3 linked regions of the Homo sapiens genome follow. The protein of the gene in region 1 interacts with the protein of each later gene in a pairwise test. Each region holds a gene or a part of one and is shown on either strand. Other genes may lie near its edges.

Region 1 (4,934 bases):
TTTAAATCTAAATCTCAAAAACAATGAAAAGACCTAGATGTGTGGAGAGAAACATTTTCCGAAAACATTCTTACTCAGCTACAATGCAAGCAGAGTTCAGAAGGGGAGGGGGCTGGTTCAGAAGAGAAGTTCAAAACAAACAGCTCGGAACTGACTGCTTCCAGCAACAATAATGAGCAGAGTTCACAAAAAACAAAATAAATTCATTTTCTCATTTTAAGACACCGGTCATGTTTTTTAAAATGAAAAAAAAGGAGGAAGAGGCCAGAGGTAGGCGGAGGCAGCCGTGCTTGGGCTCAGGACCTGTGTCCCAGGAATACGGGCTCAGCTCCAGTCCCTTAAACCCAATACAACACGAGGCTTTGCCAACCAAACATGGCCACAAGGCCTCCCACATGCTGCGGTGGCCCCGGTGCCCGCCCCGGGTCAGAGCAGCCGGCACGGAGCCGCGGGGATGTGGCCTCTCGGGGACGCACGGGTTTCTTGTGCGGCACCAAGAAAAGACGAAGACAGGAAATAGGAAAAGGGACTTTATTAAAGAAAAGTCATCTGTGAGTGACTAGTTAAATTAGCATGCTTGACATTAACTCTGGGTTGAAACCTACCTCCGTCAAATAACAAGTGGACTCTCCAAGCAAATGTCTACACGGCAATTCAAGCAGCAACTCAAGAGCCCAGAGGAGCACTGGAGACGAGGCCATCACTCCACTTCCCAGTGCGACAACCACTTTTTTGTAAACACCTGTCAGATGCTAAAAATACGGCCTTACACACTACCGTCACCAAAGTTTATAAGCAATAAGATCAGAGAGCAGGAGCAGCTGCAGCACCTCTAACAGTCCAGGGCTGAGGCGCTGAAGGTGAGTTTCCAGGTGAGGTCCACTCTGCCCGGTCTCGGGCCGCACCAGGGGGCTGCTGTGGCCTGATAGCCGAGTGGAACAACGCCACCTACGTGCGATTTAGTGTCTGGAAGATTCTAGAGATCTGCAGCATGACAGGCCCCGTTTCTGGATCATTCATCCACTGGGTGCTGTTCAGTGGGTTCTCCAGCATGTCTTCAAATGCTGCAGGGAAAACAGAGCCAGCCTGAGTGCCCACGCCCCCACTCAGCCCACAGGCACAGGCGTGACTTTCCTCTTCGGCAGCTTCCTAATGAAGAGGGTGCGTCTCCAATACAAAGGCCACACAGAGCTCACTGCTAAGTGTGCACTCTCAGGCTGAAACCCACCCAACTCCATCGGATGCACCCATCAAATCAGATCTGATCACAGAGAGTCATGCACTCAATTCTGGCAGGTGGGCAGTGTGCCTGTGCGTGCTCATGGCACCCCCACTCTCGGCAGCTGTCTGGCAGCCGCCAGGGCTCAAAAATCATCTTCCCCAACAACTCCACTTCCAATCCCACCCCGAGAAGGTCAGCAGATGCAGAAAGGACACACACAGACACTGTTGCAAAGTTAACAACAAACTGGAAAAACGTAATGCTCAGCCTTCAGAAAATTCCTTCTTCAAAAAACCAGCACATTAAAAATGCAACACAGCACTTCTTCAAAATGAAAACTTGGGTTTTAACAGCTTTACAAAACTGTTTCCCCAAAACAGGTGGCTTTTAGCAAAAAGCTCTCTGTTCCACCCACTGTGAAGGAGCACGCGTTCTGCCAGCCCCTCTGCCAGGATCGATGGCTCCATGCTGACCTGACACACATGGACGCACTTCAGCATAAGTGGCCCCAGGTCTACAGGCTCCAGGGACAGTGCTCACTACAGAATTCACAGCCATTCACGGCCCAGTAGCCCATGGCTGAGCACAGAGCTCAGAGTGAACCCAACTTGGCTCTGTTCATGATTGGACAATCCCCAGGCCTTAAAACAATCCTCTGGTGTTCTGATTAAAAGTCTCCAAAAACCACTTTAAAATCTCAGAAAAAGCCAGGCACGGTGGCTCATGCCTGTAATTCCAACACTTTGGGAGGCCGAAGCAGGCGGATCATGAGGTCAGGAGATCGAGACCATCCTGGCTAATACGGTAAAACCCTGTCTCTACTAAAAATATAAAAAATTAGCTGGGCGTGGTGGCAGGCGCCTATAATCCCAGCTACTCGGAAGGCTGAGGCAGGAGAATAGCATGAACCAGGGAGGCGGAGCTGGCAGTGAGCCGAGATTGCGCCACTGCACTCCAGCCTGGGCAGCAGAGTGAGACTCCGTCTCAAAAAATAAAAATAAAAATCCCAGAAAAAGACTCAGAAAGAACAAACTATAAGGTGCGAAACAGCTGTTTCACACACAGGGCGGGGAACTTAATTTCCCATTTCCTCTCAATAAACAGCAAAATAAATTCTGGAAGGATGAAAGAGTTGAACAAAAAGATAAAGAGTTAAATATGAAAAACCACACAGATGATTATTTATCTGAGGAAGGACTTTCCTTTTTGAATTTAATTTTTTTTTGAGACAGCGACTTGCTTTGTTGCCCAGGCTGGAGTGCAGTGGAGTGATCATGGCTCACTGCAGCCTTGAACTCCCAGACTCAATGATCCTCCCACCTCAGTCCCCTGAGTAGCAGGGACTACAGGTACGTGTGCCACCACTCCTGGCTGATTTTGTTTTTTTGTTTGTTTGCTTTTTTAGTAGAGAGGAGGTCCTGCTATGTTACCCAGGCTGGTCTCGAACTCCTGAGCTCAAGTGATCCTCTTGCCTCAACCTCCCAAAGTGCTACAATTACAGGCATGAGCCACCATGCCCAACCTGAGGAAGGACTGTCTTCTGTATATCCTAACTTCTGTATGTCAGAAAATGCCACACAAAATTAGAGAGCAAAAACAGTTTACAACATTCAACAAAGGAAGATGTGCCTAATATCCAAGAAGCTATTAAGGAAGCTCTAGGATTAATATTGCAATTGAAAAACACATGTGCCAGGCACAATGGCTCTCGCCTACAATCCCAGCACTCTAGAAGGCAGAGGTGGGGGGAGCGCTTGAAGCCAGGAGTTCAAGACTAGCCTGAGCAAAAAAACGAGACCCCATCTCAACAACAACAAAAAAAATAGCTGGGCATGGTCGTGCATGCCTGTAGTCATAACTACCCATGAGGATGACTTGAGCCCAGGAGGTCAAGGCTGCAGTAAGCTGTGATTGTACCACTGCACTCCAGCCTGGGTGACAGATCAAGACCCTGTCTCCATAAAAAGAAGGAAAACAAATAGATGACACGCATAGACAGTATGTAAAAGAAGAAATGCAATGGCCAACAGAAAAGTATTCAACATTGCTAATAACCAAAAGGAATGCAAGTGGCCAGGCGCAGTAGCTCAAGCCTGTAATCCCAGCACTTTGGGAGGCCGAGACGGGCGGATCACGAGGTCAGGAGATCAAGACCATCCTGGCTAACACGGTGAAACCCTGTCTCTACTAAAAATACAAAAAATTAGCCGGGCACGGTGGCGGGCACCTGTAGTCCCAGCTACTCAGGAGGCTGAGGCAGGAGAATGGCGTGAACCCGGTAGGCGGAGCTTGCAGTGAGCTGAGATCGTGCCACTGCACTCCAGCCTGGGTGACAGAGCGAGATTCCATCTCAAAAAAAAAAAAAAAAAGAGGAATACAAGTTAAAACAATGAAGGTCTTGTCTATAATATGGAGGTGGGCAAGTGTGTGTGCTGGGGGCAGATCTTGCATGGACAGTGGCGCCATCACTGCACTCTAGCCTGGGTGACAGAGAAAGAGCCTATTTCTATTAGGAAAAAAAAAAGAAAAAGTTATTGGACAGACCCCAAGGCAGCACACACTAACATCCTAAGGTATACAAACAGCTGGAGAGCTAGGAGGAATATGCTTTCAGTGTGAAAGGAATCACTAAGAATAAAAATAAACTCACAAAAGACCATTCTCAAGTTTTAGAATTTGGGTACAAAGAAGATCCCTACCTCACACCACACACATACTTCTAGGTAGATTATGGACTTAAATTAAGAGAAACTTTTAACATTTTTGGAAAAAAAAATAAAAGGAAAACGTGTTTCTGACTTTCGGATAGGAGGGTTTTCCTTTTTCTTTTTTTTTTTTTTGAGGTGGAGTCTTGCTCTGACGCCCAGGCTAGAGTGCAGTGGCACGATCTCGGCTCACTGCAACCTCCGCCCCCCAGGTTTAAGCAATTCTCTGCCTCAGCTCCAGAGTAGCTGGGATTACAGGTGCATACCACCATGCCCAACTAATTTTTTGTATTTTTAGTAAAGACAGCGTTTCACCATCTTGGCCAGGCTGGTCTTGAACTCCTGACCTCGTGATCCACCTGCCTCAGCCTCCCAAAGTGCTGGGATTACAGGCGTGAGCCACCACGCCCAGCCATGGAGGGTTTTCTTTAAAGGTTCACATCTTAAAAAAAATACAGACACACTGAAGGACATCAAAACACGGGATTCTGCCCATCAGTGTGAGGAAATAAACCAGAAACTGAACAACGGCATCTGCAACACAAATAATGGGAAAAGGGTCAGCATCCAGGAGGTGAGGACCTTTCTGAATGAATAAGAAAACAATCCAAGAGAAAAGCAGGCCAAACGCTGAGCGGAAGGTCTCTCACAGCCAAGGTTCTACAGGCGGCCAATACGCTTCTGAAAGAAGGCCAGCCTTCAAGATCAGGGCACGGCCATCGCAGCTCCAGAGACACTTCCAGCCTGCTCGGGTGGCAAAGGCCCTCCCAACATCCAGGAACTCAGCTCCTGGGGACCAACAGGTCTGTAATCCCAGCACTTAGGGAGGCTGAGGCAGGTGGATCACGAGGTCAGGAGTTCGAGACCAGCCTGGCAAACATGGTGAAAGCCGTCTCTACTAAAATACGAAAAATTAGCCAGGCGTGGTAGTGCACGCCTGTAATCCCAGGTACTCAGGAGGCTGAGGCAGGAGAATTGCTTGAACCTGGGAGGCGGAGGTTGCAGTG
Region 2 (7,365 bases), on another chromosome or scaffold:
TCCAAACTGAGTTCAAGTTCCACGCTGACCCTTACAAGTTTTGGGACTAGATATTTTTCAGCACCTCAGTTTCTTTTTTTAAAATTATTATTATTTTTGAGACGGAGTCTCGCTCTGTCACCCAGGCTGGAGTGCAGTGGCACAATCTCGGATCACTGCAACCTCCGCCTCCCGAGTTCATGTGATTCTCCTGCCTCAGCCTCCCCAGTAGCTGGGATTACAGGCGCACGCCATCACACCTGGCTAATTTTTGTATTTTTAGTAGAGACGGGGTTTCACCATGTTGGCCAGGCTGGTCTCGAACTCCTGACCTTAGGTGATCTGCCCGCCTCGGCCTCCCAAAGTGCTGGGATTACGGGCGTGAGCCACACCATTCCCAACTATGTTCTATTATCTTTAACAATAATGCAAATATAATGATATCAGGTATGAGAATGAATTATGTCTCTAAAGAGCTAGAATATAGCAATGCCTAGAATTTTGTAAACACATTAAATAGTAGCTGGTAGTAGAATCAGCAAATACCAGCTCTCTCAACTATCCTATTCATCAACTTTCGATCTGCCTCACTCACACCTAACCCTTCTTTATCAGATTTCTCCACAGGGGCTTCAGGAGTTCTCTTTTATTAGCTGCTGCTGCTCTAATCAGGGTAAAAATCTAAAGCCTCGAATGAGGTTTGCCAGGGGGTCCAAAATCTGGCCCAGACTCTCCAGGCATTTCCTCAAATCCACCACTACTCCCCACACCCCAGGCGCAATAAATTATGAAATACAAAACCAAGGCAAAGCCAGGCCATGTATTAGCCTTCTTCCTTAAAGCAAGCCGACTAAATTGAGATGTTTCATAGAATCTTCCCGCTTCTCTCCCTTCTCAGCGCGTAAAGAATGTTCTGGCAGAGCACGGTGGCTAAAGCCTGTAATTCTTGTGCTTTGGGAGGCTGAGGGTCACTTAAACCCAGGAGTTGGGCAGCACAGCTAGACTCCGTCTCTTAAAAAAAAAAAAAAAAAAAAAAGTTAGCCGAGCGTGGTGGTGCGCGCCTGTAATTCCAGCTACTCGGGAGGCTGAGGCAGGAGAATTACTTGAAGCTGGCAGGCGGAGGGTGCAGTGGGCAGAGATGGCACCACTGCACTTTAGCCTGGGAAATACAGCCAGACTCCGCCTCAAAAAAAAAAAAAAAATGCTCAATGAATGGGCTGGGGTGGGTGGGGCAGAGAGGAGCTGACGGGACATACTACATCTAAAACGCCACTGTTTCCGAGGGACGCGGATATGCTCTGGTCCCCCACCTACATCCCATTCAGTAAACAAAGGTACCCACCGAAACATACAGCAGCACAAACCCATTTTTATAAGACCCTGTGCCTGACTATTGCAGGAAGATGGAGGACAAACAACAGCTGGAGAATAGATGAGCTGATGTTTGGCTCCTAACCTCTAAAACAATGCCAACCCAGCCCCTTCCAGGAGTAACAGCTTGAAAACAATACATGGCATTTAGATAGTTTTTAGCATTCCTGGCAATTCCGTTACTAATTCATGGGTCTTCCTCACAAGGGAAGAAACCCCATTTTTGAGGCACAGGCCCACCAGGGCAAAATGACCTGGCCAGGCTGGAGCCAGGTGCATGTGAGGGCCACTGTGAGGCCCTCTGCTCTGCTCACCCTCTACGTCACAGTGCTTCTTCTGTAGGTGAACGTGTGGGTTTTCAGCCAGGGCGCTTCTTACTGAAGGGCCCGAGGGTCCCGGAGAACATATCTGAAACGTCTTTTGAAAAGACTGTAGCACTTTGGGAGGCCGAGGCGGAGGGATCACCTGAGGTCAGACGTTAGAGACCAGCCTGGCCAACACGGAGAAATCCCGTCTCTACTAAAAATACAAAAATTAGCTGGACGTGGTGGCAAATGCCTGTAATCCCAGCTGAGGCAATCCCTGTGAGGCTGAGGCAGGAAAATCGCTTGAATCCGGGAGGCAGAGCTTGCAGTGAGCCGGGATCGCGCCACTGCACTCCAGCCTGGGCAACAGAGCAAGACTCCGTCTCAAAGAAAAGGAGAAAAAAAAAAAAGTAAAAGAAAAAAGAACGTTCTCTTTGCACGATCTAAGTACCTAGGACAGCTGCTACCCAGGCCCTTAGGGATTTACAGAGCCCTGTCGGATTTGTCAGAAATTTCTGTAACCCGCACGCCGCGCACGCTCCAGGGTTGGTTGCAAGTGGCCCAGAGTCTTGGATCCCTGGTCCTGTTCCACCGGGAGCAGAACCACCTCGACGCGGGGACAGCGGCCTCGCTCGCTGCCCAGCGCCCGGACACCCGAGCCGGGCCAGCCCCCAGCGCCCCGCAGAAGGGTTTGACGCACTTGCGGCGCCCTCGCGAGTGCCGGGTGACAGTCGCCAACTTTCGCGGAACACGCGCTCCAGATGTGAGGGAAGAGGAGGAAAAACGCCGCCCGCCTGGGCTGGGGTTCACAGGCACGGCCCGCCTCCCGCCGCTCCTCCAGGCCGCGCTCGGGTGCACGGACACCGCCTCCGCGGCGGCCTCGGGCCCGGGGGAGGGAAGCGCGGTCTCCCGGGCTGTTGCCCTCGCGCAGCAGACCCGAGGGGCCGGCCCGCGAAACTTCGCGAAGTGGCGAGAGGGGGCCACCCGGCCGCTCAGCGCCTTTGTCGCTCCAGCCTCGCCACCGCACCGGGCTCGAGACGCCCAGCCCAGCCCCTTGGCCCGATCCCGCCCGGGCCTCGGCCCGCGCCCCTCAGCTCGGCGGCCCTCACGGCCCGCGCCCCCGCCCCCACCCCCGGAGCTCCACAGAGGCGCCCCTCAGAGAGGCCGCGTCGCCTCACAGACCCGCCCAGGAGCTCGAGCGCGCCCCGCAGCCGACACTCACTCGTCACTCAAGTCGCCGGCTAGCCAGGCAGGTTCGGCGGCCTTCGCTACCGCGCCGCTTACTCCTCAGAAGCCGCAGCTGCGAGCTCCGTGGCAGCCGCTGCACTCCTTCCGGCCCTGCCGCGGCGTCACCTCGCGCCTGCGCACAGCGCCCCCTCCCGACTAAGGACAGGAAGAACCATAGAGGCACTCCGGGTACTGCGGAGGAGGGACCGGGGGGCTCACCATAGAGAGGGCCGCCTAGTCGCGCCTGCATCCGGGCTCTCCGCCTGCGGAGACTTGACTCCCCCACGAGGCAGGAGGGTGAAAGGAAAGGAGACCCCCATATCCGACCCCACAAGGAGCCACCATCTCCCCAGAGCTGAAAAGGGTATGGGGCAGGTGGTTGTGGATGTTTACTCGATATCTACTGATTTGCCCTAATTCGTTTGGCAAGTCATTCATTCATTCTGCAAATATATTCTGCGGATTTCCTGTGGGCCACACACTGTTCTAGGAATTGGGGAAATTAAGAGTAAAGTGGGTCCCATGGCTGGGCACAGTGGCTCACGCCTGTAATCCCAGCACTTTGGGAGGCCAAGGCGGGTGGATCACTTGAGGTCAGACGTTGGAGACCAGCCTGGCCAACATGGTGAAACCCGTCTCTACCAAAAATAAAAAAATTAGCCAGGCATGGTGGCGGATGCCTGTAATCCCAGCTACTCAGGAGGCTGAGGCGGGAAAATCACTTGAACCTGGGAGGCGGAGGTTGTAGTGAGCCAACATGGCGCCCCTGCACTCCAGCCTGGGCAACAGAGCAACCCTCCATCTCGAAAAAAAAAAAAAGTAAAATGTGTTCCTGGCCTCAGGAAGTTTAGGTTTTAGTGAGCAAGTGAATAACTGACTAAAATACTGCTCCTGCTGGGCACAGTGGCTCATGTCCATAATCCCCGCGCTTTGGAAGGCCAAGGCAGGAGGATCGCTTGAGGCCAGGAGTTCAAGACCAGCCTTAGCAAAATAGCAAGACCCCAACTCTTAAAATAATTGCTGGCCAGGCGTGGTGGTTCACGCCTGTAATCCCAGCACATTGGGAGGCCGAGGCAGGCAGATCACTTGAGGTCAGGAGTTCGAGACCAGCCTGGCCACCATGGTGAAACCCCGTCTCTACTAAAAATACAAAAATTAGCTGGGCATGGTGGTGCGTGCCTGTAATCCGAGCTACTCGGGAGGCCGAGGCACAAGAATTGCTTGAACCGAGGAGGGGGAGGTTGTAGTGCAGTGATTATGCCACTGCACTTCAGCCTGGGTAACAGAGTGAGACTGTGTCTCAAAAAAAAAAAAATTGCCAAGTACACCTTCAAGTAGAGATATCAAGTCAGTAATTAGATAAATGAGTCTGGGCTGGGCATAGTGGCTTATACCTGGAATCCGAACATTTTGGGAAATGGAGGTGGGAGGATGGCTTGAAGCCAGGAGTTTGAGACGATCCTGGGCAATAGAGTAAGACCCCATCTTTACAAAAATAAAAATTAGCCGGGCATGGTGGTGCGCACCTATAGTCCCAGCTACTCAGGAGACTGAGGTGGGAGGATTTTTTTGTTTTGTTTTGTTTTGTTTGTTTTGTTTTTTTGGACAGAATCTCACTCTGTCAGCCAGGCTGGAGTGCGGTGGCACGATCTTGGCTCACTGCAACCTCCACCTTCTGGGCTCAAGCGATTCTCCTGCCTCAGCCTCCTGAGTAGCTGGGATTACAAGCATGTGCCACCACGCCCGGCTAATTTTCGTATTTTCAGTAGAGACAGGGTTTCACCATGTTGGCCAGGCTGGTCTTGAACTCCTGACCTCAGGTAATCTACCCACCTCGGCCTACCAAAGTGCTGGAATTACAGGAGCGAGCCACTAAACCCGGCCAGAGGATTGTTTGAGCCCAGGAGTCCGAGGCTGCTGTGAGCTATGATTGCACTGCTGCACTCCAGCCTGGATGACAGAACAACAGCCTGTCTCAAAAGAAGCAAACAAAAACAAAACAGGGAAATGAGAGGAACAATAGTCTTGATGCGGCAATGAGTGTTCCTTCTCTAAGACAGTAGAGTGTGGCTTATGGGGGCTTGCATGGGACAGAAAAAGACCACTACTCATAGTGCTTTGGGGAACAGTGTCCTGAGGGAATAGTCATGTTTCAGTGAAGTAGAAATTGAAGGGCTGCTTACAGAACAGGACGAGGATCTAGGGATCTTACAGATGTCAGGCCCTGAGTTAGAGGGTGCAGTGCATGGGAGACATTAGAGGGTGAACAGGAGAGAGAGTTTAAGATAGATACTTACCTGAGATGAGATCCTGGAATCACCTGGAAGGTAAAACAAAGGCATTGGCCTTGATGAGCTTATCCTCCATGCTGGTCCTCTTGGGGGAGGTGGATAATCGCTGTCAGTTACAGCCTTCTTCTTAGGATGGTCCTCATAAGCCCTTTGAGATGTTGGAAGAAAGCAGTATTGGAAGGAGAGCTTGGTGATCTTAGCAGGAGTGCAAGGTTCTTTCCGGACCACTGAACCCCTCTGTGGTTGGTGTCACACCCAAGGCAGGTGCGATCGAGTAACCTCTCTGAGTCTAGCTTTTTTTTTTTTTTTTTTTGAGATGAAGTCTTGCTGTGCCACCCAGTCTGGAGTGCGGTGGCGCGATCTTGGTTCACTGCAAGCTCCGCCTCCTGGGCTCACGCCGTTCTCCTGCCTCAGCCTCCCGAGTAGCTGGGACTACAGGCGCCCGCCACCAAGGGCTAATTTTTTTTTGTATTTTTAGTAGAGATGGGGTTTCGCCGTGTTAGCCAGGATGGTCTCGATCTCCTGACCTCGTGATCCACCCGCCTTGGCCTCCCAAAGTGCTGGAATTACAGGCATGAGCCACCGCACCTGGCCTGAGTCTGGAATTTTTTATTTGTTCAGGCTTTTTGGAGACTCTGACTCAGACGTGATGGCAATGAGAAGAGAGACTTTATTTTTGTCTTTATTTATTTATTTTTGAGACGGTGTCTCCTTCCATCGCCCAGGCTGGAGTGCAGTGGCACGATCTTGCCTCACTGGAACCTCTGCCTCCCAGGTTCAAGCGATTCTCCTGGCTCAGTCTCCCAAGTAGCTGGGACTACAGGCACCCACCATCACACCCGGCTAATTTTTAAAATATTTTTTGTAGAGACGGGGTTTCACCATGTTGGCCATGCTGGTCTCAAACTCCTCACCTCAGGTGATCTGCCTGTCTCAGCCCAAAGTGCTGGGATTACAGGTGTAAGCCACCATGCCAGGCCTTTATTTTGAAGTTTAATTTAAAAAAACATTAATAGATAGCCAGGTGTGGTGACACATGCCTCTAGTCCCAGCTACACAGGAGGCTGAGGCAGGAGAATCACTTTAACCCAGGAGGCAGAGGTTGCAGTGAGCCGAGGTTGCGCCACTGCACCCCAGCCTAGGTAACACAGCAAGACTTCGCCTCAAAAAAAAAAAAAAATTATAGAAACAGAGTCTCGCTTTGTTGCCCAGGGTGGTCTCGAACTCCTGGCTCTAAGTGATCCTTCCATCTTGCCCTCCTAAAGTGGTGGGATGGCAGATGTGAACTGCCATGTCTGGCGGGGAATTTTTTATTTGTAAAATGGGAATTTTAAGATATTATCTATTGCCCGGTGTTCTTGCAAGGATGAAATGGGATCATGTGTGAATTGAGAAGCTCTCATAGGAGTTATTTGTTTACATGCTCTTCTTGTCTTAAGCATTTTCGGAGTCATAAAGACAACTATCATATCTCTGCATTTTTCCCAGTGAGGGCGAGAGGAAGCTACTCCCTCCTTCTAGGTTGTCTGGAATCATTCTGGTTACTTTTGAACTGGAATCATTCTGGTTACTTTTGAACTGGAATCATTCTGGTTACTTTTGAAGCCTCTGGCCTTTTTTTTTTTTTTTTTTTTTTGGAGACGGAGTTTCACTCTTGTCGCTCATGCTGGAGTGCAATGGCATGATCTTGGCTCACTGCAAACTCTGCCTCCCGGATTCAAGTGATTCTCGAGTCTCAGCCCAAGTAGCTGAGATTACAGGTGCCCGCCACCACATCCGCCTAATTTTTGTATTTTCAGTAGAGGCAGGGTTTCACCACGTTGGCCAAGCTAGTCTTGAACTCCTGACCTCAGGTGATCTGCCTGCTTCGGCCTTCCAAAGTGTTGGCATCACAGGCGTGAGCCACTGTGCCCGGCCCTGTTTTTTTTTGGAGGGGGGTGGGGTGGGGTTGGGGGTCTCACTCTGTCACCGAGGCTAGAGTGCAGTGACTCAGTCAATCATAGTTCACTGCAGCCTTGACCTCCCAGGCTCAAGTGACCCTCCCACCCCTGCCTCCTGAGTAGCTGGGACTACAGGTGTGTGCCACCACGCCCGACTAATTTTTTAATTTTTTTGTATAGATGGGGTCTCGCTGTGTTTCTCAGGCTGGTCTCAAACTCCTGGCCTCAAGTGATCCTCCTGCCTCGGCCTCC
Region 3 (7,029 bases), on another chromosome or scaffold:
GTGTTGGGTGGCTTTTTTATTTTTGTTTTTAGTACAATGTCTAAAGGAATGGTTTTAGCTTGCTAGTAACTCACTGAAAGAGTGTTAGAATTTTACGCCCTAGGGAAACTCTTTAAATAGATTTAATGTAGTTAGTCAAAATCCTCCAAATTTTTGTACACAATGTGTCTTTATTTAAAGGGTGAAAATAGCACACCAGTTTTAATAATGGCTTAACCAGCATTTTATTATTCAACTCAAGTCACTCTAAATGGTATCAAAAAGGCCTTGAATATGGCCTAATAGTGCCATTCATTATTTGGTTCAACTGATACCAGTGGATACACCATGCTAAGGATATAGAGCAGAATAATTTACAGTTCCTACCCTAGAGGAGAGTACATTTTGGAAATTAGAGGAGAGTACACTTTTGGTCTTTGGGGAAAAGAAAAACAAAACAAATAAGAAAAATTTCTTCTTGAGTCATCCCGGGTCTTCTTTATTGTGCCCTTGAGTTAAGTTTCTTGATTAATCAGTACTCATTTCCTAGCAGGTTTTCACGGACCCTAGCAACCTTCAGCGGCACATTCGCTCTCAGCATGTCGGTGCCCGGGCCCATGCATGCCCGGAGTGTGGCAAAACGTTTGCCACTTCGTCGGGCCTCAAACAACACAAGCACATCCACAGCAGTGTGAAGCCCTTTATCTGTAAGTTTTCAACACTCCAGCCCTCCTTCCCACATCTGTCTCTTCCCCAAAAGGCACTGTGACCAGGAGAGTGGCTGCACATGGCCTTTAGAGGGTCACCGTGTTAGCTATTTATGGTCCAATCCAGTAGGGCTATTTATGATTACAAGTAAATCTTTTATAATCAGATCCATGGTATTTTGTCCTTGATTCCTGGGGTGTTTTCTTTCAGAAGAAATCAATAACAGGTAGAGAAAAGAAAATTCATTAGATAATCAAAGGGAAACCTCCACAGGTTGTAGGATTTAATCAGGACAATCAGATTTGTCTCATATTGTAAATGTTCATGGCTTTGTAAAGCAGCAAATAGCAGCCATCACTAAACAAGATGAAGTGATTAAAAACCTGTTCTGGATCAGAAAGAGCTGGAAGAAGCCCACCTGGGAAGTAGGCTTACGGCTCTGTGTGCATGTATGTGAGTATATGTGTGTGGAGAGAGCGAGGGGGATGAAATGCTTTTTAATCTACCCATTGTTGCCGATCACAGGCTGTCGGATCTGTAGTTCTCTGTTACTTGAAGAAAAGCAGAACATTTTCACTTAGATGCTGGACATGCTGTTTCTCTTACCCACTGCACCAAAGCAAGTTTATAGGCAGTGTGCTTTTAGGGGACATCTGATCTGACCACCTACTTAGAACATCCCTGTACAGAGCACTGTAGTAACATCCTTCAAATACAATAAAACTCAGCTCTCATTTGCTTTTTCTTCTCTCCGCCCACTCCTATTCTCTGTATTGTGCTCAAACATTTTATAAGTAAAATCAGTTGTTCTTAGTCTACCTGGGCAAAAAATCTGGGCTTCTTTTAATCCATTGCTTGGCGGGGCATATAAATACAATGACTTATTGAGTTGTGCTACAAACGTCAAGACTGATTTTGGACCCAGATACACATAGAATTGGTTGAAGCATACTCAGCACTTGGCAAGACCTCTGACTTTGGTTTGTAGTAGGTATATGAGACACTACTACAGGACCTGATGGAAAAAACTATTTTTCAGTGCCAACATGGAGATGCCAGAGACTAACTCTCCTTTGCCTCGACACAGCTTTCTTTTGTGTGTCCAAGCACCAAAATAGCTTTTCTTTCCTTTTCCAGCTTACACTAGAGTCCTGTTTTGCTCATATGCTCTTCTGTTCCCCGGGTGAAGAGGACTAGCAGATTAAAAAAGGGTGCTCTCATCTCCCTTGGGGAAGCTCTATTGAAGGTCACGGGAAATAAAGCATTCAATAGAAATTTTAGACTTCTTGTCGCAAAAAGGCATTCCTGACTCTTAAGTCTTAATGCCCTGAAAATGTACTTGGAAGTACTACAGGCATACGATATTAAATAGTTCATTTATTTCTGATTCCTCAGAAATAAATTTTGGTAAGTTTTATTATGTTTTGATGTGAGAAAAAACTAGAATAAACCACAAGGAATTCTGATCACTCATTTAATGCTTTCTCTATTATTTAAAATAAAAGTCAGAAAATATAGACTTCTGCTATCGAAGATTCTGGGATCTGGAATTTTAATTGTGTTGAAGACAAGTGTTTCACTTTAAAGTGCCATAGGGTGTCCCTTTCCAATCAGATTGCATAAAGTATTTCCCTTGAATGTATTTTCAGTAATTATTGGTAAATTTAAATAGCAGATGGCATTCTTCAAATTTAAAATCTGCCAGAGAACCATGGAGTAATTATGAATAATAGCCATGTAATTTCAGAACAAAAGAGATTAAAGATCAGGAAATGGTGTGGAGACTTGAGTGGAGGAGGTTCACCTAGGGCTGATATCTGTTTCTCACCAGAAGGCCACACACCACGATTTACCCCCACTGGTGTGTTTATGGCAACTGTCTCTTATTACAGTGTGCTGCCACGCTTGAGCCCAAAGTCACCAGTGCTAAGGTAATTACTCACTGCCTTTACAGAAACCTACAGCTTTCCCAAATAGAAACCACATGCTCTAATAGGCTGAATATATTCAAAATGCCTCTTAATTTGTTTAATAAGTAGAAAAATGCAATGTTAACTGCTGGCTAATTCCTTATTACTGAGAAAATTACAGTAGAGTATAAACTTCAACATCAATTGAACCAGTTTACCTGGAGGCCTGGTAGTTTGTGGTATGCCAGGCCAGGCCTTCAAGTGCCGAAAACAAAGCCTCTGCCTAAGAAAACATCCCAGATTCGATGTTCTTGAGCCCAGACACAGACAGCACTCAGCCATGTAACAACGGGTGCCACCAGAAAAGTCAGCTGAACTTCTGTTACTCCAATAGAGAGAAGCTCTTGATTTTTTTTTTTTAAGCCATCTGATTGTAAGAAAGAAGTGTAGAGAGCAACATTTCCTTGCCAAAAAATGACAAGTCTTTGAAAAACTTATGTCTTGGTTGAATACTCATCAAGACATTTTTTCAATGCCTTTTAAGAGGTGTTGCTTTCTTACTTTTTATAATTCCAATAATAAAATATTGTTATTGCTTGTAGCTATAAATTATTCTAATATATCTAGTAAACATCTGATGTTTCTACCTTCTCCATTATTTGATTTTAATTAGTGTATCAAACAGTTTAAATTAGATGTATATTTATGGTGTATGGTTAAATTGTATATACTTTTAAAGCTGACTCTGGTCGATATATTCTGGTAAAATAATTTGAAAAGATATCACCCACATCTTCTATTCCCATTAAAATGCATGTTACAGCCTCTGTAACGTTGTGATTCATCCCACAATTGAAGGCACCTTTAATATTACCAAACACTTTGATATATGCAACAATACACTTTAACCTTTAGTAGTAAAAGAAAGAGATATACCCTTACTTGGTACTTCCTGTTTGGATGTATGTGGGATAATCCAAGCTCTGGGTGAGTTTTGCTTGACTGAAAGTCTATAAAATCTCCTTGACATGAGTTTTTTTTTTTAATTATTATTGCTTTGACTTAGAAGCACAATCATTCTGCACTTAAAGGCAGCCATCATATGAAAGCAATAACTGTTGCATTTTGTCTTCAATTTAATTTCTTAAAATAAATTTGCTTCAACAATTACCAACAAGGTACATCTTGTTTCTGCATGTATTGAACATGCACAGAAGTGTTAAAATAAGCTCACACATAACGTGGCTCAATCCCGTAAAGTAAAATAAAAAATGTGATGCTCAGGGTACTGATACTGTAATACTGCTGGACAGTGAAGTGAGTGATTCTTACCTGGTAAAGGAGTTATTAAGGGTTACAAAGTTTGGTCTTAAAATATACTTGGCTATAGTGGCACATGTGTGAGGAGGAAGATTCTACTTTATTGACAAATTCTTAGCAAAGAGGCATATTTCACAGCTGCATCCAATGCTGTGCCCTTCTTTCTGGATTAGAGCTTTCACAGTGCTCTCCCCTACTGAGCATAGTTGGCTATAACACACAGAAGTCAAGCCTGAGATAACCAGTGTAGATATGACAACAAGTGGACATGTTTCCCAAGGACGGGGTTTTCATAAATGCAGGAAGGTTAGCACAACCACTGGTGTGAGGGGAAGTCAGAGGACGTGATCATAGTTCATGGGAACCAGCAATGCAGGATGGGCTACATTCAATTTAGTTTCCTTTGCAGGCTTAAAATAGAGCCATTGTAAATTATGTCAGTCTTTCTCAAATCATGAAAATGATTGTTAAAAAAAGTCTCAGAATACACAATGTGCATTGTTGTGTGGCTTTGATGTGTGAATGATGAGAGCATATGATATAATACCAATTAAATAATAGCAGGGCAGTCACAGGCTTTTTCCCCAAGGGGAGAGGCAATAAAGGTGAAGTTTCTGGTTGAGGATATTTTATTTTGTTTTGGTGCCTACAAAATAGAATTTTTAAGTACTCTAAAATTTGAAAGGGGTTCTTGTTGTGTTTTGTACGTAATGCATTTTAAGACTAATTTTCAACATTATATTAGTATAATAATTGTGTGGAGAATCAATGCATGATGGAATTTAACTTTTCATAAATATTTAAATACACAAATATTATGCAAAATATTGCACAAGGGGGTGACAAGATATATATATCTATATATATGAAATATTTGTGCTGCCTCAAGACATTTGTCAGGTTGGTTGCCTTGCTTTGGAATCTAGTGAAATGGGGTTTTCTGTGTTTGGAGCACCCAGATTGGTGCCTCCAATGTCTTTTACTGGCTTCCTAATTGAAATTTTGAGTAAACCAATTGTGATATTTGCTAAATTCAGAAGCAATTGACATAAAGCCTGAGATTCTTTTTTGTTGTTTGCACACAGGTGAGGTCTGCCATAAATCCTATACTCAGTTTTCAAACCTTTGCCGTCATAAGCGCATGCATGCTGATTGCAGAACCCAAATCAAGTGCAAAGACTGTGGACAAATGTTCAGCACTACGTCTTCCTTAAATAAACACAGGAGGTTTTGTGAGGGCAAGAACCATTTTGCGGCAGGTGGATTTTTTGGCCAAGGCATTTCACTTCCTGGAACCCCAGCTATGGATAAAACGTCCATGGTTAATATGAGTCATGCCAACCCGGGCCTTGCTGACTATTTTGGCGCCAATAGGCATCCTGCTGGTCTTACCTTTCCAACAGCTCCTGGATTTTCTTTTAGCTTCCCTGGTCTGTTTCCTTCCGGCTTGTACCACAGGCCTCCTTTGATACCTGCTAGTTCTCCTGTTAAAGGACTATCAAGTACTGAACAGACAAACAAAAGTCAAAGTCCCCTCATGACACATCCTCAGATACTGCCAGCTACACAGGATATTTTGAAGGCACTATCTAAACACCCATCTGTAGGGGACAATAAGCCAGTGGAGCTCCAGCCCGAGAGGTCCTCTGAAGAGAGGCCCTTTGAGAAAATCAGTGACCAGTCAGAGAGTAGTGACCTTGATGATGTCAGTACACCAAGTGGCAGTGACCTGGAAACAACCTCGGGCTCTGATCTGGAAAGTGACATTGAAAGTGATAAAGAGAAATTTAAAGAAAATGGTAAAATGTTCAAAGACAAAGTAAGCCCTCTTCAGAATCTGGCTTCAATAAATAATAAGAAAGAATACAGCAATCATTCCATTTTCTCACCATCTTTAGAGGAGCAGACTGCGGTGTCAGGAGCTGTGAATGATTCTATAAAGGCTATTGCTTCTATTGCTGAAAAATACTTTGGTTCAACAGGACTGGTGGGGCTGCAAGACAAAAAAGTTGGAGCTTTACCTTACCCTTCCATGTTTCCCCTCCCATTTTTTCCAGCATTCTCTCAATCAATGTACCCATTTCCTGATAGAGACTTGAGATCGTTACCTTTGAAAATGGAACCCCAATCACCAGGTGAAGTAAAGAAACTGCAGAAGGGCAGCTCTGAGTCCCCCTTTGATCTCACCACTAAGCGAAAGGATGAGAAGCCCTTGACTCCAGTCCCCTCCAAGCCTCCAGTGACACCTGCCACAAGCCAAGACCAGCCCCTGGATCTAAGTATGGGCAGTAGGAGTAGAGCCAGTGGGACAAAGCTGACTGAGCCTCGAAAAAACCACGTGTTTGGGGGAAAAAAAGGAAGCAACGTCGAATCAAGACCTGCTTCAGATGGTTCCTTGCAGCATGCAAGACCCACTCCTTTCTTTATGGACCCTATTTACAGGTAAGCGTGTATGGAAGATGACGAAATATGAGCAGATGTATGAAAGGCGGTATTTCCACTGTAAAGTGATGGCTTTTTAACACATCATTTTTACTATTATTATAAAACAGAGTGAAGTTGTTTGATCTAGTGAACTCATTTTTTATTCTGAAAGTTGGATCATTCTGTTTGAACTTATTTTTGGATGTTTCTGAAGTTGGGGGTTTGGAATAGGCCTACAGAATTTTTTTCCCTTGACAATAAATTTATTTTTAAACACTTTTTTTGGAGTGGAAAATATGGGAAAGTCATATTTAAAGTAAATTGTCAAGTGGCGGAAGAATGAGGATCCTGAAGGATTAATGCAAATATGCGTGGGTACTTAAATGGGTCAGGTTCTTTGGAATGGGGGGGATATCTAACAGCAAGAGTCCACTCTTTTTTGACCTACCAACACATCCTTAATAAGGGCTGGTCATATTGTTTCTAAATAAATCTCTCAGGAGCCCCCAAGTAAATGAAATATTAATCACAGAATATGTTTTGTATATAATATGAGTAGTTGGCTTAAAAAATGTCTCTGTTTAATAGCTTCATTATCCGGTTTCCTTTGATGTAGCAAAAAAATCTTGGGGTGAAACATACAAGTTTAATAAAAGGCCTTTTTGGCAATATTCAGTAATATTCACCT

Evidence for each region. The genes of interacting proteins can lie anywhere in the genome.
Region 2: the proteins of UBAC1 (region 1) and RNF216 interact in binary tests that used the Homo sapiens proteins (3 or more experiments, as listed by UniProt).
Region 3: the proteins of UBAC1 (region 1) and MECOM interact in a two-hybrid assay, tested with the Homo sapiens proteins (one study listed by BioGRID).

What each region holds. Positions count from the first base shown.
Region 1 is NC_000009.12:135,932,452-135,937,385, forward strand, and holds the end of UBAC1 (ubiquitin-associated domain-containing protein 1), read right to left. Parts: intron 1,065-4,934; coding exon 949-1,064; 3' UTR 518-948; downstream 1-517.
Region 2 is NC_000007.14:5,778,664-5,786,028, forward strand, and holds the start of RNF216 (E3 ubiquitin-protein ligase RNF216), read right to left. Parts: upstream 3,001-7,365; 5' UTR 2,878-3,000; intron 2,213-2,877; exon of another isoform or gene 1,322-2,212; intron 1-1,321.
Region 3 is NC_000003.12:169,114,713-169,121,741, reverse strand, and holds part of MECOM (histone-lysine N-methyltransferase MECOM), read left to right. Parts: intron 1-529; coding exon of another isoform or gene 530-532; coding exon 533-686; intron 687-5,002; coding exon 5,003-6,359; intron 6,360-7,029.